Regions from separate parts of the Homo sapiens genome. Here region 1 is linked to region 2. Evidence: fine-mapped expression QTL. A gene starts in region 2. The other region holds a variant in brackets. All regions are shown on one strand. Distances are from middle to middle.

What was found. PIP is the estimated chance that this variant, and not a neighbour inherited with it, causes the effect. A credible set is the group of variants that fine-mapping cannot tell apart.
Region 1: its variant is the best candidate, but not a certain one, in a credible set for the expression of ADM5 in whole blood (TOPMed, PIP 0.59).

What each region holds. Positions count from the first base shown.
Region 1 is chr19:49,650,147-49,661,767 of GRCh38, forward strand. It overlaps SCAF1 (SR-related CTD associated factor 1), which reads left to right. Exons shown (of 11, transcript NM_021228.3): 7 at 722-3,559; 8 at 4,203-4,285; 9 at 4,506-4,724; 10 at 7,615-7,743; 11 at 8,062-8,496. The coding sequence ends at 8,253. It overlaps IRF3 (interferon regulatory factor 3), which reads right to left. Exons shown (of 8, transcript NM_001571.6): 7 at 10,567-10,682; 8 at 9,426-9,687. The coding sequence ends at 9,502. Among named protein-coding and RNA genes, the nearest start is that of IRF3, 9.9 kb to the right of the region's middle. RefSeq lists enhancers at 5,542-6,317, 7,938-8,641. The variant G/A (reference allele first, on the strand shown) is at 5,370.
Region 2 is chr19:49,685,123-49,696,589 of GRCh38, forward strand. ADM5 (adrenomedullin 5 (putative)) reads left to right here and starts at 4,472. Exons shown (of 2, transcript NM_001101340.2): 1 at 4,472-4,789; 2 at 4,984-5,453. The coding sequence starts at 4,716. The coding sequence ends at 5,371. It overlaps PRMT1 (protein arginine methyltransferase 1), which reads left to right. Exons shown (of 11, transcript NM_001536.6): 9 at 971-1,121; 10 at 1,483-1,604; 11 at 3,040-3,325. The coding sequence ends at 3,123. It overlaps CPT1C (carnitine palmitoyltransferase 1C), which reads left to right and starts at 5,994. Exons shown (of 20, transcript NM_001199753.2): 1 at 5,994-6,218; 2 at 6,699-6,767; 3 at 7,117-7,271. The coding sequence starts at 7,131. RefSeq lists enhancers at 2,071-2,812, 2,813-3,553 and a silencer at 4,862-4,931.

The sequences.
Region 1 (11,621 bases), 35 kb before region 2:
CTGTCACTGGTCAGTGGTGTCTTTGAGTCCTGAGCAGATGTAATTCCTTGGGTGGGGACTCAGCACAGAGTGAAGAGCTTGGGGTGAAGACCAGCCTTCCTGGGCTCCCCAGCTCTGCCATTTCCTGGCTCTGCACTGGAATCTCACCCTCTACCAAACGGGAGAAACTCCCACGAGAGGCAGCTGGCGCAGCAGGCCAGAGCTTGTTTTTGTCTTGGAGGGGGACTTAGGTTTGAATCCCAGCTCTCCCCCTGCAGCCTGTTTTCCTGTTTCTTCTCCCCCCAGGATGGAGTGTGGTGTTGTGGTCATAGCTCACTGCAGCCTCCACCTCCTCCTGGGATGGGTCGCCGGCACTGGTCAAGATAGTTCCTAGTTTCAAGGCCAGGGTACATTGCCCAGGGTCAGGCCAGTGCTGTCTCAGGATATGGGAGTGCAGGTTCGGGGCCGCACTGACTGAGTTTACACCCTGACTGCTGCCTTCTCTCTGTGTGCCCTTGGGGAGGATACTGCAGCCCTCTGCCTCAGTTTCCTCCTGTGACCTTTGGGTTAAGAACCATGGTGTGCAGTTGTTGGGAGCATCCTACGGCTGGCTCCTGTGAAGCACTTGGGGCTTCCTGGGCAGGACCTGGTGGCCCAGGGAGTGTCCACGGCTGGGCCAGCAAGCAGGCACCAGGAGGGAGGCAAAGGCCCTGACCGCCTCTCTCTCCCTGTTCCTTTGCAGTTTCTCCACAGTCGAACTCCTCTAGGCCCACCTGTGCCCGTCACCTCACCTTGGGCACGGGAGACGGGGGCCCTGCCCCACCCCCTGCCCCCTCCTCTGCATCCTCCTCCCCTTCCCCTTCTCCCTCATCTTCCTCCCCTTCCCCTCCCCCACCCCCACCGCCCCCTGCACCCCCAGCCCCACCTGCCCCCCGATTCGATATCTATGACCCCTTCCACCCCACCGACGAGGCCTACTCTCCACCGCCTGCTCCGGAGCAAAAGTACGACCCTTTTGAGCCCACCGGCTCCAACCCCAGCTCATCAGCGGGGACCCCCTCACCTGAGGAGGAAGAGGAGGAGGAAGAGGAAGAAGAAGAGGAAGAGGAAGACGAGGAGGAGGAGGAAGGCCTGTCCCAGAGCATCAGCCGCATCTCGGAGACCCTGGCGGGCATCTACGATGACAACAGCCTGAGCCAGGACTTCCCAGGTGACGAGAGCCCCCGCCCGGACGCGCAGCCCACACAGCCGACTCCCGCCCCTGGAACGCCGCCCCAGGTGGACTCCACCCGGGCTGATGGAGCCATGCGCCGGCGGGTCTTCGTGGTGGGGACCGAGGCAGAGGCTTGTCGGGAAGGCAAGGTCTCGGTGGAGGTGGTGACCGCTGGTGGAGCCGCCCTCCCGCCGCCCCTGCTGCCGCCCGGCGACTCGGAGATCGAGGAAGGGGAGATCGTCCAGCCGGAGGAGGAGCCCAGGCTGGCGCTGTCCCTCTTCCGCCCCGGCGGCCGGGCCGCCCGGCCTACACCGGCCGCCTCGGCCACCCCCACGGCCCAGCCCCTTCCTCAGCCTCCCGCTCCGCGGGCCCCCGAGGGGGACGACTTCTTGTCCCTGCATGCGGAGTCGGACGGCGAGGGCGCCCTGCAGGTGGACCTAGGGGAGCCGGCTCCCGCGCCGCCCGCCGCCGACTCGCGCTGGGGCGGCCTGGACCTGCGCCGCAAGATCCTGACCCAACGGCGGGAGCGCTACCGCCAGCGCTCGCCCTCCCCGGCGCCCGCGCCCGCCCCGGCCGCCGCTGCTGGTCCGCCCACGCGCAAGAAGTCCAGGCGGGAACGCAAGCGCAGCGGCGAGGCCAAGGAGGCCGCCTCGTCCTCGTCGGGCACCCAGCCAGCGCCGCCCGCCCCGGCCTCGCCCTGGGACTCCAAGAAGCACCGCTCGCGGGACCGCAAGCCCGGCTCCCACGCCTCGTCGTCCGCCCGCCGCCGCTCCCGCTCCCGCTCCCGCTCCCGCTCCACCCGCCGCCGCTCGCGCAGCACCGACCGCCGCCGCGGGGGCAGCCGCAGGTCGCGGTCCCGGGAGAAGCGGCGACGGCGGCGGCGCTCCGCCTCCCCGCCCCCGGCCACTTCCTCATCGTCGTCCTCGAGGCGCGAGCGGCACCGCGGGAAACACCGGGACGGTGGCGGCAGCAAGAAGAAGAAGAAGCGGTCGCGGTCCCGGGGTGAGAAGCGGTCTGGGGATGGCAGCGAGAAGGCCCCGGCGCCCGCCCCGCCGCCCTCTGGCTCCACCTCGTGTGGTGACCGCGACAGCCGCCGCCGGGGGGCCGTGCCACCCTCCATCCAGGACCTCACGGACCACGACCTCTTCGCCATCAAGCGGACCATCACGGTGGGCCGGCTTGACAAGTCCGACCCCCGAGGACCCTCTCCTGCTCCGGCCTCCTCACCTAAGCGGGAGGTCCTGTACGACTCCGAGGGACTGAGCGGCGAGGAGCGGGGCGGCAAGAGCAGCCAGAAGGATCGGCGCCGCTCGGGGGCCGCCTCCTCCTCCTCCTCTTCCCGGGAGAAGGGGTCTCGTCGGAAGGCGCTGGACGGGGGTGACCGGGATCGGGACAGGGACAGAGATAGGGACAGGGACAGGTCATCCAAGAAGGCCCGGCCCCCCAAGGAGTCGGCGCCTTCCTCAGGGCCCCCGCCAAAGCCACCAGTCAGCAGCGGCTCAGGCTCTTCATCCTCGTCGTCCTCCTGTTCTTCCCGGAAGGTGAAGCTGCAGTCCAAGGTGGCGGTGCTGATCCGCGAGGGTGTCAGCAGCACCACCCCGGCCAAGGATGCCGCGTCAGCCGGCCTGGGCTCCATTGGCGTCAAATTCAGCCGTGACCGCGAGAGTCGCTCCCCCTTCCTCAAACCTGACGAGCGGGCCCCCACTGAGATGGCCAAAGCAGCTCCGGGCAGCACCAAGCCCAAAAAGACCAAGGTCAAGGCCAAGGCAGGGGCCAAGAAAACCAAGGGGACCAAGGGAAAGACCAAGCCATCCAAGACCAGGAAAAAGGTCCGCAGTGGAGGTGGCAGCGGGGGCAGTGGTGGCCAGGTGTCGCTGAAGAAGTCCAAGGCGGATAGCTGCAGCCAGGCGGCAGGCACCAAGGGGGCGGAGGAGACTTCCTGGTCCGGGGAGGAGCGGGCAGCCAAGGTTCCTAGCACCCCGCCCCCCAAGGCAGCCCCACCACCCCCTGCCCTCACTCCGGACTCGCAGACCGTGGACAGCAGCTGCAAGACACCTGAGGTCTCCTTCCTGCCCGAGGAGGCCACTGAGGAGGCTGGGGTCCGAGGTGGGGCGGAGGAGGAGGAGGAGGAAGAAGAAGAGGAGGAGGAAGAGGAAGAGGAGGAGGAGCAGCAGCCTGCTACCACCACGGCCACCAGCACTGCTGCAGCCGCCCCAAGCACTGCCCCCAGCGCGGGGTCCACAGCCGGTGACTCGGGGGCGGAGGACGGGCCAGCTTCCCGTGTCTCCCAGCTGCCCACGTTGCCCCCGCCCATGCCCTGGAATCTGCCAGCTGGTGTGGACTGCACCACCAGCGGCGTCCTGGCCTGTGAGTGTCCCCTGGGGGAGGGTGGTGCTGGGGCAGGTGAGACAGGATGGGGACTGGAGGGTACAGACTTAGAGGCAGTGGGGTGCCCTGGCAGGGAGAGGTTTATAGGGACATAGACTGGGAGGGTGGGGGTGAGTAAAGGCCAGCCAGGCTCTAGGTGCCTGGGTGTACTGGGAGAGAGGGGCCGGTGAGAGCAGGTGGTGGCCAGCACAGACTGGAGTGGTGGGCTGGGTTCTGGGATTCCCCTAGACGGGGAGTAGGAGAGAGGGACCAGAAAGAATGGCTTGAGCAGGGCATCGTATTCCTTACGGATGGCGGTTGCCTCTACCAGACTGCAGAGGTGGGGAGAGAGGTTGGGACTGGCCACAGCGGGTCAGGAGGCAGAATCTCACTCCTGCCACTGTCTCATCACTGCATGACCCTGGCCAACCCCGCACCCACACACCTGGAGTCCCAAGAACATTCGTGGTATGGGCTGTTCTCTCATTGGCCAAGGCCCCCTTTTCCCAGTTCTGAGCGTGAGGCTTTGTGGCTGTTCTGGGGCCAAGGGCAGGAGATGACAGCAGGTGTCCAGGTGAGGTTCACCAGCTCCTGTCCTGTCACCTCTCCCATCTTCATGTTGTCACCTCTCTGCCTCCTGCAGTGACTGCACTTCTCTTCAAGATGGAAGAAGCCAACCTGGCGAGCCGAGCGAAGGCCCAGGAGCTGATCCAGGCCACCAACCAGGTGGGCTCCCCTGGGGGAGAGTCCCTGCCGCCCCTTCTTTTGTCCATTGCCTCGGGTTAGGAGAGGAACCGCGGGCCTGGCAGCTCTGGGGCAAGGTATCGGCCTGAAGAGGAGCCTGTTGCCTCAGCTGTGGGGAAGTCAGCGTGGGAACAGTGGGGTGCACGTCCCCTCTTCCCCTCCACCTCCCTTTACTCATCACCCCTCTGTCCTCGTCCCACAGATCCTCAGCCACAGAAAGCCACCCTCAAGTCTGGGGATGACCCCAGCTCCTGTGCCCACCTCTTTGGGTCTGCCCCCTGGCCCCTCCAGCTACCTGCTTCCTGGCAGCCTCCCTCTGGGGGGCTGCGGTTCGACCCCCCCCACCCCCACCGGGCTGGCTGCCACGTCTGACAAGAGAGAGGGCAGCAGCAGCTCTGAGGGCCGTGGGGACACAGATAAGGTGAGCTGGCCTGGGGAGAGGTGGGGCGGTGCTGACAGTTCTGTAGAGAATATGGACAGGAACTGAGACGCGGGGGCCCAAGGAGAAAGGGAGACTGAGGCAGGGAGACAGGGCCGTAGAGACCAAAGTCATGGAACCATAAGGAACTCCACTTTGCTGGAATGGGTGAGCAGGAAATGCGTTAGGCGTGTCCAAAGGAAAATCGCGTCTGTGCGTGTGTGGGGCTGTGTGCGTACACACCACATATACACACCCTGGAAGAGATGCCCCGCGCTGCAGCCCACCCCTTGATTATCTGTTGCTCGCGCTGTCTCCGTCTCTGTGAGTGGGGGAGGGTGGTTTCCGAATGAAAACTCAAGAACCTGTTTGTAGATGAAGCAGGGGAGAATGGGTGCCAGGCAGACAGTAATGTAGGTTCTTACTCAGCTGCTCTGGCCGGCTCCTACTCCTGGGCTCTGGAGCTGTTTCTCTCTTGGTCAGGTCTAGATGTGGGTTTTTGTTTTTGTTTTTCTTTGAGATGGAGTCTTGCTCTGTCACCTGGTCTGGAGTGCAATGGTGCCATCTCGGCTCACTGCAGCCTCCGCCTCCAGGGTTCAAGTGATTCTCCTACCTCAGCCTCCCGAGTAGCTGGGATGACAGGCACCC[G/A]CCACCACACCCAGCTAATTTTTGTATTTTTAGTAGAGACGGCATTTCACCACGTTGGCCAGGCTGGTCTTGACTCCTGACCTCAGGTGATCTGCCAGCCTCGGCCTCCCAAAGTGCAGGGATTACAGGTGTGAGCCACCGTGCCCGGCCTTGGTTGGTTGGTTTTTGAGACAGGGTCTCGCTTTGTCACCCAAGCTGGCATGCAGTGGCACAGTCACAGCTCACTGTAGCCTCAGCCTTGATCTCTCGGGCTCAAGGGATCCTCCTACGTCAGCATCCTGTGTAGCTAGGACTACAGGCACGCGCCACCATGCCCAGCTCATTTCTTAATTTTTTGTAGAGTTGGGGTCTCACTATGTTGCCCAGGCTGGTCTCAAATTCCTGAGCTCAAGTGATTCTCCCACCTCAGCCTCCCAAAGTGCTGGGATTATAGGCATGAGCCACTGCACCCAGCCTAGATGTGTTTTCTTACAGTCTAGTAGCCCATAGCCAGACGGTGACGTTGGCCACCCTTACACAGCTGTGTACCGTGCCAGATAAAGCTGTATAAACCCCATTAAACATCCTGTGTGAGCCGCAGAGGCGGGGCTGCAGTTTAGTCGGTCACTTGTCCGTAGCTTGTGCCTTGCGCTGCAGGACTCGGACGGTGAGGACCCCCTGGTCTACAGTGGCCCTTGCTCTGCCCTGGTCTGTGCTCTGCCCTTTGCCCCGCTTTGCCCATCCGAGATGGGTGTTGGGGAGCAGCGTCTCTCTAGAGACCCACATCCTGTGGGGCCAGGCAAGCCTGAGAAGTCCCTCCAGGGCAGCCTGTGTCTCTTCTGGCCACAGAGTTCCCTAACAGCTCAGTAGCTCGTCAGACAGTGTCACTGATGTTGCTCCTGGAGTCGGCTAGCCATTGTGCCCTGCCCTTCCCAGGACTCAGTTTACCTGCCCCTACTTTGATAGTCACCTGGCTTGGGAGGGCAGCTTCTCCAAGGGTGGTGCCAAGGGACTGTCCCTTGTGCCTGCAGAAGGCCTGTTCTTCTCTGGTCCCACGTGGCTCTCTGGCTAGAGGTTTCCTGTCTGCTTTTGCAAGGATTCTGCCTGAGGCCAGGGCTGCAGCTGCTGCCCCGAGCCTGCGGCTGCGGGATCTCCTAGCTTGCTGGCCACAGGCGGGAAGAGCCTTGCCTCGGAGGCTCTCTGCCCTGTCCCTGTTGCGTCCTCCCCTTTTCATCCCATGGCCATCCCCCTTGGAACAGGCACAGCTCCCCTGGATTGAGTCTTTGCTCTGTACCCAGCCTGTGCCATGTCCTCCATGTGTGTCGCTGTAGTACTGCCCATAGGTGCTGTCCCCGTTTTACAAATGAGCCACAAAGGTGGCCAGGCACGGTGGCTCATGCCTGTAATTCCAACACTTCGCAAGGCCGAGGCGGGTGAATCGCTTGAGCCCAGGAGTTCAAGATCAGCTTGGGCAACATAGTGAGACCTAGTCGCCACAAAAAGTACAAGAATTAGCCAGGCGTGGGGGTGGCACATCTAGTCCCAGCTATTCAGGAGGCTGAGGTGGGAAGATCGCTTTAGCCCAGGAGACCAGGGGTACAGTGAGCAGTGATTGTGCCACTGCACTCCAGCCTGCATGACAATGAGAGACCCTGTCTCAAAAACAAAGAAACAAAAAAGGAGCCACAAAAAGGTTTGGCTGAGCATCCCAGGGGTCAGAGACAGGGAGTGGCAGACCAGGCTTCTGATACAAATGGGCTCAAGGTCAGTCCCCACCCCCACTCCCCAGTGCCCCTCACCCCTAGCCACCCCCTCCATCCCCTGGGTGACCAGAGCAGTACTGTAAAAACCTAAACTGAGTCCTCCCCGCTCCCGCGGTGAAAAGCCCTGTGCAGTTTTCTACAGCCCCGCCTCTAGAGTCTGATTCAAAACCAGCTGCAATTTCTTGGCCAATGCCTGTCTTCTCATCAGACTGAACTTTGTGAGGGCAGGCGACACACATGTCCTGGTCCCGGCCAGGCCTGGAGCAGCCCAGGGTTCGGCCTGGAGGAGATGTTCAGTGACATGCAGAGGCCCAGGCCTGGCCTTTGGTCCCGGGCACCTGCAGCAGAGGGCGCATGGGACAGACCCTCAGCAGGACTTCCAGCCTGAGAGCAGCTGGACGGCCAGAGAGGTTAGGCTGGCAGCAGAGGCGAGTGGAGGTGGAGGTTCCGCAGGTACTCACTGGCCCTTGCTGTGTCTTCCCCCGCTGTCGCCACCCCACCAGTATCTGAAGAAGCTGCACACGCAGGAGCGGGCGGTGGAGGAGGTGAAGCTGGCCATCAAGCCATACTATCAGAAGAAGGACATCACCAAGGAGGAGTACAAGGACATCCTGAGGAAGGCCGTCCACAAGGTGGGCACCCGGAGAGAGGGGCAGACACAGGCCGGGGAGAGAACGAGCTGGAGGGACAGATGTGTGCAGACAGATGGACGCGGATGGGAGACGGGGAGGAGGTCAGTCTGGGAGGTGAGGAGGGTGACAGGATTTTCTCAAGGCCACCTGGGCCTGTTCCGCTGGCCCTGGGGCACCCATCGTCTAGGGGGACAGAGGGACTTTGGCCTGGTTATTGGGGAAGCTCCTCCTACCGCAGTTCCAAGCTGCGCCCAACAGTCCTGGGTGGATGGGGCCCCGGGAGCCTGGTGGTGACTCCAACTGTCCCCGGCCCCCCAGATCTGCCACAGCAAAAGTGGGGAAATCAACCCAGTGAAGGTGAGCAACCTGGTGCGGGCCTACGTCCAGCGCTACCGCTACTTCCGCAAGCACGGTCGCAAGCCAGGGGACCCCCCAGGGCCCCCACGGCCGCCCAAGGAGCCAGGGCCCCCAGACAAGGGTGGCCCGGGCCTGCCCCTGCCCCCTCTCTGAGAGCCCTGGCCAGCTCTTCGCCCCTCACCTCTTTGAAACTCTGGACGTATTTATGGCTCCACCTCCCCACCTCCCTCCCCCGTCAGTGGGATGACTGGGGGAGGGTTGCTGCAGGGAAGAGGAGAGCCCCCTGCCCTGCCCTGCCCCGTGTCCACCTCCCTTGCCCCCAAGCCTGTCCCCAGTGCCCCTCCCTTCTGTTTGTGCCCCTCTCCCCAATTTCATTAAAGATTTCATGAAACATTACCCCTGAGCCCCATGGTTCTAACCCTTTGTTTTCGGAGACAAATTTGCCAGAGGGTTGGGGAGGGACCCCCAGGAGGCTGAGGATGGGAGACAGAGACCAGACTGTGACTTGGGGCAGCTGCCTCCCCTGGGCCTCAGTTTTCTTATCTGTGTAGTGGGTGTTGTGATGATTGAACAAGACACAGGTGGAGCACTTAGCACAGTCTCTGGCTGGGAGCGAGCTGCTCACAGGGAGGCAGGGGCCGGACCCCACCTGATCAGCATCTTCCCAGCTCGGCTCCTGGGTGCCATGTGCCTGCCTTGGAATTGCTCCCAGAGCAGGATCTGTGTTCCCCATTGAGTTGGCTTCTCTTTTCAGCAGCCCCGTGAAGCTGGGGTGATCTCATCAACTGTCCTGAGAGGGAAACTGAGGCACAGAGCAGCAAGGGCCGAAGGGTGAGTCAGGGCTGCGCTGGCTTCTGCCAGTTTCATCACCCAGAACTGCGGCCCAACCAGGAGAGGTGACAGTGCCCAGGGTCACCAGGCAGGCAGGCTTTGCAGGCTCCAGGGTGGCCGCAGAGCCCCTTTACCAAGACCCCTCCAGCCCCACGTGGAGGGGAGCCTGAGGCCTGGAAGGAGAAGGACCACTTGCCCAAACTGTTCATAGGCAAGGCAGGGGGCCTGGGTTCTGGCTAGTCTTTGTGTTTCCTACTCTGTGACCTTTGCGCCTCTCCCAGCCTGTGTCTTGGTCTACAACACGGGGACAGCCATCACCCACCAGGTCCCTGGGCAGAAGTGAGGAGGTGTCAGCTGCCCCCTGCAGTGCTTGGTCTTCATGCATTGAGCACCTGAGTTGTATATAGCTGCACAGATGGGTAAACTGAGACCCTGAGCGGGAATAACAACCATATTGGGTCAGAGGGCACCCAACACCAGACACGCACAAGTGATCATAGCAGGAACCAGTTTATTGGTTGAGGTGGTGGGGAACAGGGGGGTTGGAGGCACACCATGAGGAGCGAGGGCTCAGCTCTCCCCAGGGCCCTGGAAATCCATGCCCTCCACCAAGTCCTGCAGGTAGGCCTTGTACTGGTCGGAGGTGAGGGAGAGTGGGTGGCTGTTGGAAATGTGCAGGTCCACAGTATTCTCCAGGGAGGAGGCACCCCCTACCCGGGCCATTTCTACCAAGGCCCTGAGGCACGTGGGCACAACCTGCAGGGGAAGTGGGGACAGGAGTCAGGGAAAACACCCAGCCACTGTCCACCAAGGTAGGAGTCAGGGCTTGGAGGACTACAACTCCCTGCAGCCCCTGCTGTAACCTAGGATGAACCATAGGCCTAGGGCTGCTGGGAGTTGTAGTTTTACACACACACACACACACACACACACACACACACACACACACACCCCCTGCTGTAACTGAACCATAGGCCTAGGGCTGCTGGGAGTTGTAGTTTTACACACACACACAAACACACACACACACACACGTCAGGGCTGAGCAGTCTGTGATCTTGACTCCTGGGAGCCACAGCCATGGCCTCACAATGGCAGCTAAAACTTGAGTCCACCAGCTTCTACATGGTTTAGAGCAGGGGTCCCCAACCCCCCTACGGCTTGTTAGGGACCAGGTTGCACAGCAGGATGTGAGCAGCGGGTGGGGGAATATTACTGCCTGAGCTCTGCCTTCTGTGAGATCAGCGGCAGCATTAGATTCTCAGAGGAGCACAAACTCTATCGAACTGCGCACGTGAGGGATCGGCTGCTCCTTAAGAGAATCTAATGCCTGATGATCTGCAGTGGAGCAGTTTCATCCCGAAACCACACCTCCCTGTCCGTGGAAATATTATCTTCCATGAGACTGGTCCCTGGTGCCAAATAGTTTGGGGGCCACTGGTTTAGAGAGTTCAAAACAGGTTCTGCAGGTGAGGCCATGGGAAGGAGCTCCCGGGGATGAAAAACTGGTTATTGCAGAGATCTTGGAAGTTGCAGTTTTTTAGAGGGCCCTCTGGGAGTTGGAGTTCCTGGGAGCAACCTCTTCCCTCTGTAAGGCCACCCCTTTCAGCCCCAGGGACTCAGGTCTGCAGGCACCTTGACCATCACGAGCCTCTTGGTCCACGGCTGGTCCTGGGGCCATGACTCCCCCACACAGAACCAGAGGGCATAGCGTGGTGAGCGTCCGCTTCCTTCCGTGAAGGTAATCAGATCTGGGGGCCCAGGAGCCTAGTCAGGGATGAGAAGAGGACCCTCTACCCACCCTTCCCCGTAAACTTGAATGATAACCCCCACCACCTCCCCTGACCTAAGGCCCTCTGCTGCCTCGACCAGGGGACTGCTTGTTTGGGGAAAGTCCCCTCCTTCCCTCCCTCCCTCCCTCCCATCAGGGTGGGGTTGTTGGAAGGCCACACCCCCAAGCCCCCAAGCCTCAGCATTCATAACAGGCCCAGAGTAGGGGGCCCATGCTCCCAAGGATGCTCAGTGAATCTGGAGAAGCTGGTTGGCATTCAGTCCTGTCTGAGGCTGCATTGTCCAATTGCAGCCATTAGTCATGTAAGGTTATTTCAGTTTAAATTGTAACCAATTAAAACGAATCACGTCCTGGTTGCACTCGCCTCACCTGAGTGCTTGGCCCCTGTGGCTAGTGGCTGCTGCACCGGACAGTGCAGGTGACTGTCATTTCCATCATGGCAGAAAGTGCCACTGCACAGCGAAACCCTAAGGGATGTAGCTTTCCTGCTATTGGTCTGTTCACCATCATTAGTTACGATGATGATGACAGTGGCAGCTAATTCCCTGAGCAGGCTCTGTGTACTGGGCCTGTGTCTCACCCCAGCGCTGGCAGGCAGGTAGAGAGAGGAGACCATCCTTGGATTCCACGGGCTCAGGGCAAAGTCCTTTGCCTCGGTTATACAGCGGGCCAAGGGCAGCCAGCGTCTGAATTCAGTCCTAATCATGAGTTCTTTTTTTTTTGTTGTTCGAGATGGAGTCTTACTCTGTCACCAGGCTAGAGTGCAGTGGTGCGATCTCAGCTCACTGCAATCTCCGCCTCCTGGGTTCAAGCAATTCTCCTGCCTCAGCCTCCCGAGTAGCTGGGATTACAGGCACGTGCCACCACGCCCGACTATTTTTTTGTATCTTTAGTAGAG
Region 2 (11,467 bases):
CAGAATGTTGGCCTGAGGTCTCAGAGCCTGATCTGCCAGCCAGAGGTGGTGCTAGAGGCCCAGGAAAGACACTTCGTCCTTTAAATATCTTTGTGAGCGCTGCTGTGTGAGAACCATGCTTGGCACTTGGCTTCTGGCGGAGGAAACACCCAAAGCTGGCAGCTAAAGCCCACAGCCCATGCACGGAAAGGCAGGACCCCAGGGCGATGAGCGGATGCACATGCACGCGGGCCACTGCAGAAGAGCACGGGGCCAGGCTGGGCTCCGAGATGTGCCTGAGGTCCCAGCTACTCGGGAGGATCACTTGGGCCTGGGAGTTCAAGGCTGCAGTGAGCTGTGATCACATCACTGCACTCCAGCTTTGGTGACAATGTTTTGTTTTGTTTTTTCCTTTTGTTTTTTTTTACTTCTGAGACCCTGTTTAAAAAAAAAAAATACGGCGATGAGTATTTGTTGAGCTGGGATGTGTGAGCCGGGTGAAGCTGGGTGGCTGACCGGGGGATCCTGTCGGGGAGGAGTAAGTTGTTGAGTGGGGGAGGAGAGGAGACTACAGGGGCAGGGACCCCACTCGGGCCACCCTCCTGAGAGCCAGGGGAACTGGCGCAGGGTTTAGGTTGGCATTTGTGTTGCCGTTTGAAGCCATCATGTTGTTGGACTTGTCAAGGGGTTGGGGAGACAGTGGAGTGGGGCGCCTGCATTCTAGGAGGTCTGGACAGAGTTAGGGTGGCACTGCCAGGTTTGGGTGTTGGAGAGGAGGGAGCAAGGAATCTGGGCTCGAACCCACATGGTTTATTGGGAGCCGGATAGGCAGGATGCAGAGTGAAGGAGGAGCCGAGGCTGGGTGCCAGTGAGGGAGGGCTAGCAGGAAGGGGACAGCGAGGTCACAGGCCCTCTGGGAGCTTAAGGGAGGGAGGAGGGGATGAAGCGAGGTGGGGACGCATCCCGGAGCTCGCCCTCTCATGTCCTGCAGGAGGTGGACATCTATACCGTCAAGGTGGAAGACCTGACCTTCACCTCCCCGTTCTGCCTGCAAGTGAAGCGGAATGACTACGTGCACGCCCTGGTGGCCTACTTCAACATCGAGTTCACACGCTGCCACAAGAGGACCGGCTTCTCCACCAGTGAGGCGGGGCCCACAGGGCTGGGGGCCGTTCCCGAGCCAGGGCGGAGGCGCACCCACGTAGTGGAGGGGGTGACAGAAACGGGCAGAAGGAACCATGGGGACACGCGTGTTCCAGTGTGAGCTCTGCCATGTAGCAGTCACGTGGCCTTGGGCAAGTGACCTGAGTGTGCAGTGCCTCAGTTTCCTCATCCACAAAAGGCTGACACGGTCCCTGTCTCCAAAGCTCAATGACAGGGAGGTGACTCGCGGATAGCAGTCCCATCAGCTGTCATGGGGGTGGGCATTCCGACAGAGGGAACGCAAGGGTGGGGTTGGGGGGGGCAGCAGGCCGAGGCCGGCTGACCCGCCCGCGCCCCCAGGCCCCGAGTCCCCGTACACGCACTGGAAGCAGACGGTGTTCTACATGGAGGACTACCTGACCGTGAAGACGGGCGAGGAGATCTTCGGCACCATCGGCATGCGGCCCAACGCCAAGAACAACGTGAGGCTCCGGGCAGCTGGGTGGGAGGGTGGCAGCTAGGGCGGGGAGTGTAGATTGGGGGGGGAGTGGTGGGGGAGGAATGGTGGCAGCGGGGGTAGGGGATGGGGGCAGCCGGGGTGGGGGATGGGGGCAGCTGGCGGGGGCGAGCACCTCTGCCTATTCCCGGGTCCCCAAGCCCCTCAGCCCCATGCCTGTCTACACAGCAGGATTGCTTGAGCATTCACCGGAAGTTATGGGCCTGGGGACCCAGGCTGAAACCCTGCCCTCCTGGTGCTTCCACTCTAGACAAGGGGGTCAGTGACATGGTGATGCCAGTTGGAGGTGACCTCTGTCAGGCTGGGAGCAGGGCAGACAGGTGTTGGTGTAGGTGGGCTCCAGGGCAAGAGGCAGCCCCCAGTAGAGTGCACGGGGTTTTCTAGCCCAGCTGGGAGGCATGAGAGGAGAAAGGCAGCTTTTTGTTTTCTGCTCCCCTTTCTTTTTCCTCCTGAGCACTTGGCAGGAGCTGCCATCACCTGAGATCAGGGGGCTTCCGGGGGAGCTGGGGGGGCTTCTCGGAGACAGGGTCTGGGCAGAGATCCAGTGTGGTGGGTCTGAGCAGGCAGGAGGATGGAAGGCTTGGAGCCTGGAGTCGCCGGGAGTGGTCTGGGTTGGAAAAGTGGGTCCCGGCCGATGGGTGCGAGGGTGGGTGGCACTCAGGGTAGTCATGGAATGTGGACCCTGGGACACCCACGAGCCTGTGACAGCAGCAGTTGTCAACTGGGCAGTTTTACTGCCCCCTCCGCTCCCCGCCCCCCCCCAGGACGTTTGCCACCGTCTGTGGAAACATTTGTGGTTGTCACTCCGGAGAAGGGGTGGTCCTGGCATCTGGTAGGTAGGGGCCAGGGGGCTGGTAAATGTCCTGCAGCCACAGGACCACCCCCTACAAAGACTCATGCAGCCCCCGGGACCACGGCACTAGCTGGGAAACGGATACTGGAGAGGGAGGAGGAGTCCTCGGGCGTTGGTGACTTTGTCTCATCTTCATGTGCTGGAGGGTATGGGGGGAGGAGAGGAAGTGGAGACAGCAGGCTGGACCATTGTGTTTCACTGGAACGTTTGCCTGAGGAGGAAGTGGGCTTGGGAGAGGTTTTCTTTTTTATGAAAGAAGCAATCACTGCATTGCTGATGGGAATCATCCTGATGGAGAAATCCAAGGGCAAGGGACAGCAGCTGGGCTCTACTCCTGAGTGAGTCTAGTGGGCTTGGGGGTGTCCATGTGGTGCTGTCCCTTGGCAGGGTCAGGGCAGCTGCTAGGGTGGGACCAGCAGTTGGGGTCTGCAGCGTGGAGATGGGCAGGAAGCTGGAGCCCGGCTCATCGTCGCATAGCCTGCCTGCACCCGCCCCCCGCCACCACCTCCTGGTGGGTTCCGCCCTCATGCCCCACCTCTCCCTGCAGCGGGACCTGGACTTCACCATCGACCTGGACTTCAAGGGCCAGCTGTGCGAGCTGTCCTGCTCCACCGACTACCGGATGCGCTGAGGCCCGGCTCTCCCGCCCTGCACGAGCCCAGGGGCTGAGCGTTCCTAGGCGGTTTCGGGGCTCCCCCTTCCTCTCCCTCCCTCCCGCAGAAGGGGGTTTTAGGGGCCTGGGCTGGGGGGATGGGGAGGGCACATCGTGACTGTGTTTTTCATAACTTATGTTTTTATATGGTTGCATTTACGCCAATAAATCCTCAGCTGGGGTCTGGCTTTGTTTCCTGGGGGCAAAGGAGGTTTGGGGTTCCTTTCGCAGGTACTGCAGTGCCAGCCTCAGCAGTGGGGGGACCGGCCTTGGCACCTGCTGGTGGCTGCCATTCTGTGGATCTGCGTCTCCCGTCCCCCGTCTCTAGGCCTCTTGCTCCCCTTCCTTGGTTCCTTCTCGGGGTCCCTGTCCTCCACAGCTGTCTCTCAGGGTCTTTGTCCAACTCTTTTCATCCCTCTCCTGGGTCTGCGCCCCTCCCCTCTGCGGTACCCGTGTCCTGCCTAGTAGGGGATGGGGGTGGCTTTCCAGCACAGCCAGCCCTCAAGTTTCCCAGAACAGTCTCCCCACCTCCCCCCAACACTCGACATTGTTCCTCTCTGGCTGTTTTTTCCTGTTCGGGTCCCTTCAAGGCCCAACTGTGCCCAGCCCTCTGCAGCTGGGGACACTGAGTGGGTTGGGGGTGTATGTTTGCAAGGATAGAATTTCTCATGGGGGAGTGGCCCTGCTTCCTCCCCTAGAATGGCTTGGGGCTTAGGGCTGGGGACTTGCCCTCCATGGAGGTCAGTGGGAGTTGCAGCTGTAAGGTGGCAGGGCCTACCCATCTTACAGAGGTGAAGACGAGGTCCCTCTGCCTCTGCTGCAGACATGGCGTCTGCACCCACCCTTCCACCCTCAGGGCCTGGCCACGGGGTCCTGGGTCCCCCACAATACTGTGCACTCGACCTGGTTGACCCAGGACACCCTCCTCGTTGAACAGCCCTGGCTACACCTGCTTCAGTGCAACTGGAGCCCTCACCGGCGAGTGCCTGACACCTCGGCCTTTTCTCTTCCGGAGGGGCGCTCCTCAGTGTGTTTGGGGTCTCCCTCGCTCCACGCCCTCCAGGGGGCCGCATGTGCACTTGCCCTGCATTGCCTGGCCCCCGAGGTTCCAGGGTCCCAACTGTCTACTAACCGGCTTCCCGACAGGGTGAGGGTGAGGTCGCATCTACAACCAGAGCCAGCGCTTCCCCGCCGCCACCCCTTTTCTTGGAATCCCGCTGCTTAGCTACCTGCGGGTGTCATTGGCCCCGCCCCATTTCCCCACGCTTTGAAGGGGGCGAGTCTCCACAGACCTCCTAGGGGGATAGACAGCAGCTGGTGTGACCCCACACACCCAGTGAGGTCTCTGGAGCCGCGGTGCGGGAAGCGGGGACCCGGGTTTGAATCCTGCCCCTCTGGTGTGGTGCGGCCTCTTCCCACAGACTTTTGGCCTCAGTGTTCCCCGCCTGGGAAGTGGGGACTGGCCCTGGTACCTGGCTCCAGAGCTGCACCCAGAGGCGATCAGCCCGGTGCGGGAACGGGGCGGGGTGGCCGCAACTACGGGCCACGGATCCTGACCCGCCCTGCCCACGATGACTATCCACATCCTCATCCTGCTGTTGCTCCTCGCCTTCTCCGCCCAAGGGGACCTGGACACTGCAGCCAGGTGAGAAACCCGGGTGGCAGCAGGGACAGGGCGGGAGGGAGACCGTAAAGGGCGAGCGCCCTCTCCCGGCCGCGGAACGGGCAGGTGATCTGTAAGCCTCCCCGCTGGTCTTGGAGTGCTTGGGTGCCCACCTCCATCACGCTCCATCTCTCAATTCGGTTTGAACCCGGTTTTCTCCCACGCTCCCTCTCCAGGCGAGGCCAGCACCAGGTCCCCCAGCACCGCGGGCACGTCTGCTACCTGGGCGTATGCCGGACCCACCGCCTGGCGGAGATCATATACTGGATTCGCTGTCTCCACCAAGGAGCCCTCGGGGAAGGCCAGCCACGAGCCCCAGGACCCCTACAGCTATGGGCGCCGCCGGTGGCGCGAGGCGGAAGCCCGGCTCGGTTCCCAGGATTCCGGCCTGCAGCGAGGGGGCTAGCGCAGTGCCCAGCTCGCTGGGTGACCTCGGGCACGGCTCGTCCCCTCCTCGGCTTCAGTTTGCCTATCTGTATGTTGGAGCTTCTACTCCACATTTCTTCTCCCCTAACTCCAGCCCCTGAAACCGTCTTCCCCAGTCCCTCCCCGGGCTGCGACTAGGTTGGACCTAGAAGCACACGGGACCAGGCTGGGCGAAGAACACTGACGCCCAGAGCCGAATAAACAAGAGTTCCGTGTTTCAGTCTCTGCTTCTCTGTACCTATTTCGACCTCTCAGTCGAGGCTGGGTCTCTAATATACCTTTCTCTATTAGCCATGCTGCTTCTCCCTCACGGAAGTCCCACTGTCTACCTTGAATCCAACCCGCTGTGGCGCCTTTCTTGCCAACTCAATCCATGCACCTTCCGTGGGTGGTTTTGGCGGGCCGTCCTGACCCCCAAACATCCCTCCTCCCTCCCTGGCGTGAAAGGGCTGAGATTTGCTCCGGCACCCTACGCGCCTGACGTTATAATGCACCTGGGGTGGGCTGCGACCTCCCAGCTGAGCCTTGTTCCTCGAAGAGACAGGAGACTAAGAGACAATGAGCTGAGTGAGGAGCCCAGGAACCCGGGTTCCGAACAGCTGCGTAGAATGCGAGCGGCCAAATGGTGGAGAATCTGGCCGGGTAAAAGGAGACGGAGGACTGGGGATCGAACGGATGTAGGGGATTGGACGCCGTGGCTCGAAGGGGGCGGGGATAGAACGCGGGGATTGGAAGGAGGCGGGGATAAAACCCGGGACCTGAATACCCGGCTAGGGACACGAGAGAGAGGAATCGGGGTTTCTGGGTGACGGTGATCTCGGGGTGGGCAGGACTCCAAAGGCCCGTCGACCCGGTGGTGGACTCCTTGCACTGGGATTGGACATATGCAAGCGGGAGATTTGGGGCCGGCGCTCAAAATCGGGGGGCGGGGGTGGACTCGGGTTTGGACCCCAGGATCCGATCAGCGGACCCTTGATTCAACGTGGTAAGTACTGGACCCCAGGGGCTCGGGCTCCGGCGGGGCCTGGAGTCCTGTGTCTAGGGTTGGGCGTGCAAGCCTCTCCATCACTTGTCCTCGACGCTCGCCTCCGCTCACAGCCTCAGCATCCCAGGCTGCGAGGCATGCGCAGTGGGTGCTTCCTTCCCCATTCCCTCCAGCACGGGCGGGGGGAGGGGACGCTGAGCGGATGAATTTATAGACACCATCCCCCTCGCCTTGGCATGAAAAGCGGCAATGGGGTGGACAGCGTCAATGTCTAACAGGTGTTTGTTTCATATGGGTCTAAAACTAATGCTTTTCTCAAGACCCCGCAACTCAGCCTGGACCAGTTTCCCTCCTCCACCCACCCCCGAATCTTGAGAATCCTGTACTGGGGGGAGGGCACTGCCCCCGCACCATGTTCTTGGGAGAGCAGGTAAAGGGGTTAACGCGAGCTATCCCTCTGGCCTCTCTATGCGTTCCCAGAGGTCCCGAATTGACGTCCTTCCCTCAAAACCTCCGGGTCTACAAACCAGGACCCTCAAGACCCTTCAGGTGCTTAGAGAAGGATGAGCTAGGTTATGTAGTCCTGGGTCGGCGCAAAAAGGCAGCTGAAAGCGTGAGATCCCGGGTCTGAGGGAGGAGGGGCTGGGGCCTGGGCTTCTGGGTCTGAGGGAGGAGGGGCTGGGGGCCTGGACTCCTGGATCTGAGAGAGGAGGGGCTGGGGCCTGGGCTTCTGGGTCTGAGGGAGGAGGGGCTGGGGGCCTGGACTCCTGGATCTGAGAGAGGAGGGACTGGGGCCTGGACTCCTGGGTATGAAGGAGGAGGAGGGGCTGGGGGCCTGGACTCCTGAGTCTGAGGGCGGAGGGGCTGGGGTCCTGAAGTATGACTCTGCCCGACTCAGGGCTCCAGCGTGACATGGCTGAAGCGCACCAGGCCGTGGGCTTCCGACCCTCGCTGACCTCGGACGGGGCTGAAGTGGAACTCAGTGCCCCTGTGCTGCAGGAGATCTACCTCTCTGGCCTGCGCTCCTGGAAAAGGCATCTCTCACGTTTCTGGGTGAGGAGCGGTGCTGGTCGGTTTCCTTCCGGGGATCCAGGTTTCTGCTTCCGGGATGTCTGAGGCTCACTTCCGGCATTTCAGCTGGTTCATTTCTGGGAGACTATCACCCCTTTTTCTTAGAATTTTGATGTCTGCTCCCAGGACCCCTTTAGCAATTTCTCCGTGGCTCACTTCTGGGATCCACAGCCCCACCTGCTGAGAACCTCTGCTCACTTCTTTCACCCAAGAGGGGAACTGGGCCCCCCAAAAACTACCCACTTCCAGTTTCTAGAACTCCATATCCTTCCCTTATGGTGAAATTATCATTTCTTCCTTTCATCTCCAGCTTCTTTTGTAGTTGTTGTTTCTGAGACACAGTCTCACTCTGTCGCCCAGGCTGGAGTGCAGTGGCGGGATCTCAGCTCACTGCAACCTCCGCCTCCTGGGTTCAAGCAATTCCCTGCCTCAGCCTCCCAGGTAGCCGGGATTATTGGCGCACGCCACCATGCCTGGCTTATTTATTTATTTATTTATGAGACAGAGTCTCACTCTGTTGCCCAGACTGGAATGCAGTGGGGTGATCTTGGCTCACTGCAACCACCTCCCAGGTTCAAGCGATTCTCCTGCCTCAGCCTCCCGAGTAGCTGGGATTACAGGCATGGATTATACGCCCAGCTAATTTTTGTATTTTTAGTAGAGACGGGGTTTCAACATGTTGGCCAGGCTAATCTCGATCTCCTGACCTCAAGTGATCTGCCTCCCAAAGCGCTTGGGTTACAGGAATGAGCCACCGCGCCCGGCCCAAACTCCTGCTCTGTCCCTGTTCTGGAATGCGCATGCCCAATGTGTAACCAGCACCCATGTCTGTCCCAGGGTTTCTGGTTCTAGAACTCTTGCACTGTCTCCATACAGGGACTCCCTGCTTGTCACATCCTCTGTGTGTGAACTGGGGTCTGGAACACCTGTGGGGTCATGATTGAGTTTGAATCCTGACTCCACCGCTTAGTAGCTGTGTCATCTTGGGCAAGCACCTCTCTTGGAGTCGCAGTTTCCCCTCGTGGAAAACATGGGTGTTGACAGCACCTCCCTCACAGGATAGCCTTGAAGACTAAATTAATTCTTCTATGTCCTGGCCCATGGCGAGGTCTGAGTGTTAGCTTCTGATATTGTTCTTCATTCATTCACCATATATTTATGGGGCATCCGGTAAGGGCCTGGCCCTCTTTAGCATGGAGAACACAGCAGATATCAACAGACAGAATCACGCCTGGGCACTGCGGGCTCACGGCTTTAATCCCAGCACTTTGGGAGGCTGAGGCAGGAGGATCACTTGAGCCCAGGACTTGGACACCAGCCTGGACAACATAGGGAGACCCCATCTCTATTAAAAAAATAAAGACAGGTCGGGCACGGTGGCTCATGCCTGTAATCCCAACACTTTGGGAGGCTGAGACGGACGGATCATGAGGTCAGGAGATCGAGACCCTTCTGGCTAACACGGTGAAACCCCGTTTCTACTAAAAATACACACACACACAAATTAGCCTGGTGTGGTAGTGGGTGCCTGTAGTTCCAATTACTCAGGAGGCTGAGGCAGGAGAATGGCGTGAATCCGGGAGGCGGAGCTTGCAGTGAGCCAAGATGGCGCCACTGCACTCCAGCCTGGGCGACAGAGCGAGACTCCGTCTCAAAAAAAAATAAAATAAAATAAAAAATAAATAAATAAATAAATAAATAAATAAATAAATAATAAAGACAGAATCCTGCTTTTATAGAGTTCTCATTCGAGTTGGGGGAGAAGGCAATAAAACAGATGAGCAAAACAGAAGGCAATAAAACAGATGAGCAAAATATAGGGTATGGTGACATTCTATAGTGTCATCTGATATTGATGGTGACACATGCTATGGTGAATGATAAATCGGGTAGAGAAGAGTGATGTGGGGGTGTTGCAGTTAAATAAGGGGGTGGCAGGCCAGGTGCGGTGGCTCACGCCTGTAATCCCAGCACTTTGGGAAGCCAAGGCAGACAGATCACGAAGTCAGGAGTTCAAGACCAGCCTGGCCAATATAGTGAAACCCCATCTCTACTAAAAATACAAAAATTAGCCGGGTGTGGTGGCAGGCACCTGTAATCACAGCTACCTGGGAGGCTGAGGCAGAAGAATCACTTGAATCCAGGAGGCAGAGATTGCAGTGAGCCAAGATTGCGCCACTGCACTCCAGCCTGGGTGACAGAGCAAGACTCCGTTTCAAAAAAAAAAAAAAAAAAGGGGGTGGGAGCCGGCGGCCAGGAGGATCTCCTGAAGCTGGGATGCTTCAGCAGGCTAAACTGAACCTCTGTGGTCTTGTTGGTTGTATAATCTGTTCCAGTTGGCAAACAGCCACTGCCTTGAACTCCGAATCCCTCTCCCGCCCTTACCCTGGGACTCCTTGGGCCTCAGGCCAGTCTACCAACTAAAGTGTTAACATGTGACCATCCTTGGCCAGGCATGGTGGCTCACGCCTCTAATCCCAGCACTTTGGGAGGCCGAGGCGGGCAGATCACGAGGTCAGGAGATCAAGACCATCCTAGCTAACACAGTGAAACTCCGTCTCTACTAAACATACAAAAAAATTAGCTGGGCGTGGTGGCAGTCACCTGTAGTCCCAGCTACTTGGGAGGCTGAGGCAGGAGAATGGCGTGAACCCAGGAGGCGGAGCTTGCAGTGAGCCGAGATCGTGCCACTGCACTCCAGCCTGGGCAACAAAGCGAGACTCCGTCTCAAAAAAAAACAAACATGTGGCCATCCTTTTCGTGTGTTTAAATACATACATACATAGATACATACATATTTATAGACCTATAAATATATACATGCACACACATATATATGATAACATTACATGGAGAAAAATGCACAATTTTTTTTTTTTTTTTTTTTTTGAGACGGAGTTTTGTTCTTGTTGCCCAGGCTGGATTGCAATGGCATGATCTTGGCTCACTCCAATTTCCGCCTCATGGGTTCAAGCTATTCTCCTTCCTCAGCTTCCCAAGTAGCTGAGATTACAGGTGCCTGCCACCAGGCCCGGCTAATTTTTTGTATTTTTAGTATAGACAGGGTTTCACCATGTTGGCCAGGATGATCTCGAACTCCTGATCTCAGGTGATCCACCCGCCTTGGCCTCTCAGAGTGCTGGGACTACAGGCATGATCCACTGCACCTGGCCTTTTTTTTTTTTTTTTTTTTTGACATGGAGTCAGTCTGTTGCCAGGCTGGAGTGCAGTGGCGTGATCTCGACTTACTGCAACCTCTGCCTCCTGGGTTCAAGTGATTCTCCTGCCTCAGCCTCCAAGTAGCTAGGACTACAGGCGTGTGCCACCACGCCAAGCTAATTTTGTATTTTTAGTAGAGACGGGGTTTCACCATGTTGGCCAGGATGGTCTCGATCTCTTGACCTCGTGATCCGCCCACCTTGGCCTCCCAAAGCACTGGGATTACACGCATAAGCCATTGCCCCTGGCCTTTTTTTTGAGACAGCGTCTCACTCTGTTGCTGTTGCCCAGGCTGGAGTGCAATAGCAGGATCTTGGCTCACTGCAACCTCCATCTCCTGGGTTTAAGCAATTTTTCTGCCTTAGCCTCCTGAGTAGCTGGGATTATAGGTTCCCACCACCACGCCTGGCTAATTTTTGTATTTTTAGTAGAGATGGGGTTTTGCCATGTTGGCCAGGCTGGTCTGGAATGCCTGACCTCAGGTGATCCACCCGCCTAGGCCTCCCAAAGTGCTGGGATTACAGGCATGAGCTACTGCGCCCGGCCAAACCCCAGTGTTTTCATTTGTAAAATGAGATCATCTTAGTACTTATTTCACATGGTTTGGGGAGGATTTAAATTGTTAATCCTTGTAAATGGCACCTGGAATGTAGTAAGTGCTCATTAAACGTTAGTTATCTCTCTGAGGCTTCCAAAGGAGTTTAGTTAGTAACGCAGTGCTGTTGGTCGTTCCTCATTCATTCCATGCCCTGGTACTTCTAGAAGGCCTTACTGAGCTCCAGACCCTGCTCTGAATAGGGATCATTTTTCTTTTTCTTTTCTTTTCTTTTTTTTTTTTTTTTTTGAGACAGGGTCTTACTTACTTTGTTACCCAGGCTGGAGTGCAGTGTCACCATCACAGCTCACTTCATCCCTGAACTCCTGGGCTCAAGCGATCCTCCTGCTTCAGCCTTCCAAGT